Linked DNA regions of Homo sapiens: region 1 is linked to region 2. The links come from fine-mapping of genetic effects on gene expression. Tissue or cell type: nucleus accumbens. Region 2 holds a variant in brackets; the other region holds the start of a gene. All regions are shown on one strand. Distances are between the middles of the regions.

Region 1 (2,500 bases), 150 kb before region 2:
AGAAACAAAGCAAAAGCCCAAAAAATTTCCCCTTCTCAGGGCTTCAGTTCCCTTATGTGTAAAATTAGGGGGCTGTCATGGTTAACCTCAGCCTTAGGTTTCTTCTAACTAGAACTGTGACAGATTCCAAAGTAGGATAATGAGTTCCCAGGCTCCTGGATCTTAAGAGGCTTCCCGGTAGCTGAGAGACTGAGAGCGACTGCACCCTAAATCGTGTTGTTTCTGAAAGAGCACAGGTTGGCCCACCTGGATGTCTGGGCACCTTCCTCTGAGGTGATGCAAAGGGGCCACTCAATGGGTCCTTGCTCAAAATGCTCCAGCCTTACTGGCCTTCTTCCCATTCCTGAATGCACCAAGTTAGTCCTGTCCCAGGGCCTTTGCACGTGCTGGTTTTGCTGCCTTGAGCTTCCTACAGGAATGGTGGCTGGTTCCTCCCTTCTCATCCTTCACATTTCCTTAGACGCCACCTTCTCCGAAAGTGCCATCTCTTACTACCCTAAAGGTCTTTTTATTTTCTTATTTCAGTGTCCATTCCCTTATTTGTGATCGCCTAATTATTTTACTTATTTCTTGTTTTGTTTGCGTCCTCTTTCATTCTGTTAGCTCCATGTAAGCAGGGGTCCGTTTTGCTTTATTCAGAACTGTATACTCAATGCCCAGTACAGAGTAGGTCTCAAAACATATTTGTTAAATGAATGACGTGGCAGCTCCACAATTCCAAGTAACCAATGACACCTAAAGTTGTTTCCCCATGAAGTCTCTGTCTTTTGGGTTCCGTGCATCGGGCTGGGCTCACAGGCTGCGGGAACTTCCTTCCCACTGCCTGTTTTCCTTGGATCGCGGTATCTCTCTTCCTGGAGGAAAAAGGCTCTTATGACCTCATGGCGCGCTCTCCCGAGCCGCAGTGACGTCATTAATGCGCTCACGCGTCACAGCCCAATCATAGGGCCCTTCCCCTCCCTTTAGAAGTCCCGACTGTCCCTGACACATTCCACTCCAAGCGAGCCGCGACACTTACGTCACGTCCGCCCGCCCGCGCGGTGATGACGTCACGACCCAGGGCTGGCGTCACGTGTCCCCCCCGCGGGGGGCGGCCCTTGAGGGCGGCGCTTCCGGTCGGCGGAGCCTGGTGGCCGCAGCGGCGGTGGCGACGACGGCCGAGACGTGGGGATGGCGGGCGCCGGGAGCGAAGCCCGGTTCGCCGGGCTGTCGCTGGTGCAGCTCAACGAGCTGCTGGAGGACGAGGGCCAGCTGACGGAGATGGTGCAGAAGATGGAGGAGGTGAGCCGAGCTGGGCTTAAGGCGGCGGCTGTGAGGCCTCGAGCGGGGTTCGCTCCTCGAACGGTGGCCGGAGGCGGAGGCGACCGCGGCGCCTCCGGTCGTGTTGAGGGGACTGGGCTAGAAATGGGGGCGCTTGGGGCGGGGTGCGGGAGCCAGGGAACCGCGACTGGTGCTTAGGCAGGAATAGGGGGCCTGAGAGGGGGTTTGAGGCACTGAGGGGACCGAGACTAGGGCGGAGGCGGGAAAAAGGGTCCTGAGACGGGGCTTGGGGAGCCGATTGGGGGTCCTGAGACAAGGTTTTGTGGGGCTGAGGACTTAAGGCTGGGTCTGAAGACTTAAGGCTGGGTCTGAAGTGGAGATTAGGGAGCCTGGAATGGGAATTTGGGGATTAGAGTGCTATCGTTGGGTCTAGGCGGAAGAGGACGGAACTGGGGGGATCTGAGATTGGTTTGGTCGGAGGAGCGGGGAGAGTAATAAGGGCTGAGTCGGAGGCGAGGATTAGGGGTGACTGAGGGGGACCAAGAGCTAGATCTGGTAGAGGTTGGGGGGTTTCCTTTGAGAGGAAAGGTTGGGGACAACCAGGGGGACTGAGGCAGCTATAGGGGATCAGAGTAGGTTTTGGGGGACTGAGTGGACTATCCAAATAGGACTCTTAGGAGAGGATTGAGGGTTCCAAGATGGGTTCGGGAGGCTGAGGGTCTGTAGCTGAGTCTATGAGGTGGTTCTGAGGCTCTTTAAGGGTTGGGCGAGGGTCCCCAGCCCAGGGTTTGGAGGCAGGAGTCCATGGTCATACCATAGCCAGGGTAAGGTTTGAAGGTTCCATGTATCTAAGGGGTCCCAATAATGCCCCTGGAGTCTGACTTCTTTTGAAGTGGCCCCAGCAGAGTTACGGGAGTTCGTGGATGGGCCTAAGGGTGGCGACAGGATACGTTTTTCTGTAAGGGTTGCCCCCTCCACCGAGGAAGGGAAGGTGGGAAATTTAGTGTGGCTGGCTTTGTACCACTGCGTCCCACGTGTCTGGGACTAAGGAAGGTTCCTGGAGCAGTTTCAGGAAGAAGTTAAAATGGGGGTTTGGGGCTGGCTGCCAACCCTCACCTCTGAGAGTCAAGCCTTGCCCAGCCCCTGGAAGGCATGTGCCAGCTCCTGTTTCTGGTTATCTTCCTTCACACCTTGAGGTGTGGTTTGCTCTCGGGTAACTGACTTCATCCTTGCAGATTTG
Region 2 (2,753 bases):
ACTCCCGGACTCAAGGGATCCTCCCGCCTCCGCCTCCCAAAGTGCTGGGATTACAGGCGTGAGCCACCGCGCCCGGCCTACAATTTTTTTTAATGAAAAAAAGAAAAATGTAAGAGTATGGGAATATATGGGGAAAAGAAAGATCAGATTGTTACTGTGTCTGTGTAGAAAGAAGTAGACATAAGAGACTCCATTTTGTTCTGTGCTAAGAAAAATTCTTCTGCCTTGAGATGCTGTTAATCTGTAACCCTACCACCAACCCTGTGCTTCCTGAGACCTGTGCTGTGTCAACTGAGGGTTAAATGGATTAAGGGCTGTGCAGGATGTGCTTTGTTAAACAAATGCTTGAAGGCAGCATGCGCCTTAAGAATCATCACCACTCCCTAATCTCAAGTACCCAGAGACACAATACACTGCAGAAGGCCGCAGGGACCTCTTCCTAGGAAAGCCAGGTATTGTCCAAGGTTTCTCCTCATGTGATAGTCTGAAATATGGCCTCGTGGGAAGGGAAAGACCTGACCATTCCACAGCCCGACACCTGTAAAGGGTCTGTGCTCAGGAGGATTAGTAAAAGAGGAAGGAACACCTCTGTGCAGTTGAGATAAGAGGAAGGCATCTGTCTCCTGCTCGTCCCTGGGCAATGGAATGTCTCGGTGTAAAGCCCGATTGTATATTCCATCTACTGAGATAGGGGAAAACCGCCTTAGGGCTGGAGGTGGGACATACTGGCAGCAATACTGCTCTTTAAGGCATTGAGATGTTTATGTATATGCACATCAAAAGCACAGCACTTTTTTCTTTACCATGTTTATGATGCAGAGACATTTGTTCACATGTTTTCCTGCTGACCTTCTCTCTACTATTATACCCTATTATCCTGGCACATCCCCCTGTCCGGGAAATGCCTGCTAATGATCAATAAATACTAAGGGAACTTAGAGGCCGGTGCGGGCACGGGTCCTCCGTATGCTGAACGCCGGTCCCCTGGGCCCATTTTTCTTTCTCTACAATTTGTCTCTGTGTCTCTTTCTTTTCCAAGCCTCTCGTTCCACCTGACGAGAAATGCCCACAGGCGTGGAGGGGCAACCCACCCCTTCAGGAATAGATCTTGGTTTCAAGAATAGTTGGATCCTGCAGATAAAACAACGTATTCTAGAACCTTTCTCTCACTCTTGCTCTCAGAGAATTCTAAAACAAATGTGAGAAGTGTGTATGTTTGGTGATTTTGGGTAAACACATGGGAGTTTCTTCATACTATTCTTGT[A/G]GATTTTCTGTACATTTGAAATTATGTCAAATTTACAAGTTTTTTTTTTTTTTTTTTTTTTTTTTTGAGACAGAGTCTCGCTCTGTTGCCCAGGCTGGAGTGCAGTGGCACGATCTCGGCTCACTGCAAGCTCCGCCTCCCGGGTTCACGCCATTCTCCTGCCTCAGCCTCCCGAGTAGCTGGGACTACAGGCGCCTGCCACCACGCCGGGCTAATTTTTTGTATTTTTATTAGAGACGGGGTTTCACCGTGTTAGCCAGGATGGTCTCGATCTCCTGACCTCGTGATCCGGCCGCCTTGGCCTCCCAAAGTGCTGGGATTACAGTTGTGAGCCACCGCGCCCGGCTTACAAGTTTTTTTTTTTTAAGGTTGCTATCTCTTTTCATCTGTTGGCTCTATCCCTATGTTTTCTTCCTACTGCTTACTTACGTTATTTTCTATTAGTTTAACCATCCCAGAAGAAAGAGATATTTATCTTTTCCAACAGTTCCAGGGAACAACTCAGGTGAATGTCTCATTAGCATTTTGAGTCATGTGCTCATCCCTGGGCCAGTCACAGTGGCCACAGGGATGGAATGATCTGATTGGCCAGACCTGGTCACATGCCTATTTTTAGAGGCAAGGGGTGGAACCAAATCCCCAATCCTCCAAACCTCGGAGATGGATGGAGAGGGCGGAATCTGTTGCCCAAGGAAAATCAGGATGCTAATGCCCAAGTAGAGTGCCTGGATGCTGGGAAGACAAAAACAACACATAAATAGGCCATCATCTGCACTCTTGATCCCAGAAGCCCTGCTCAAAGGGAGAAGGATTAGGGGACTGAGATGAAGAGGGAGGAGCGGCACCACAGCAGTTAATAAAAAGCAACCTGTTCTGCTTCTCCAAAAAGTAGACGTTTAATAAGGTCATTTGCTCTTGCAGCACAGGACTGACAAGGGACACAACCAGTTCTGTCACAAGAGGCCCATAAACATTCAATGTAGAGGAGGACTAATTTTAAAAGATGATACAATTTTATCGGGATGAGATAAGCACTTTGTTAAGTCAGGCAGCAAAACCTGTCTTTGCTTAGTCAAACCAAGGACCCCCTCATATGAGGGACCCAGAGTATCAGAAGTATCAGCATAAACGCATCTCACTGGTTGAAGCTGGGATGACCCGCCACAGGTCGATTCTCAGTGGACTAAAAGCACTGGCAGAGGATCAGCTTGACTCTAATTCTGTGCTCCCAGACACTCTGAGAGTCTTACTACAATGCATTTTAGTCTTTTATTGTAAAAATATTACATGCTTCTTGCAAAATATTCAAACCATACAGAAGCATATACAGTAAAAAATGAAGGTTTCTCTCTCCCCAGAGTACTGTGACAGTTTGGTCATATAATTATAATAATAATAGTAATAGGGCGGGCGCGGTGGCTGAAGCCTGTAATCCCAGCACCATGGGAGGCCGAGGCAGGCGGATCACAAGGTCGGGAGATCCAGACCA

Evidence for each region. PIP is the estimated chance that this variant, and not a neighbour inherited with it, causes the effect.
Region 1: VPS37B starts here. The variant in region 2 is fine-mapped to the expression of VPS37B in nucleus accumbens (GTEx, PIP 0.94).

Annotation. Positions count from the first base shown.
Region 1 is chr12:122,894,733-122,897,232 of GRCh38, reverse strand. VPS37B (VPS37B subunit of ESCRT-I) reads left to right here and starts at 1,109. Exons shown (of 4, transcript NM_024667.3): 1 at 1,109-1,281. The coding sequence starts at 1,171. RefSeq lists a silencer at 966-1,115 and an enhancer at 1,296-1,445.
Region 2 is chr12:122,749,205-122,751,957 of GRCh38, reverse strand. No RefSeq gene overlaps it. Among named protein-coding and RNA genes, the nearest start is that of DENR, 2.2 kb to the left of the region's middle. RefSeq lists enhancers at 1-638, 1,742-2,036. The variant A/G (reference allele first, on the strand shown) is at 1,265.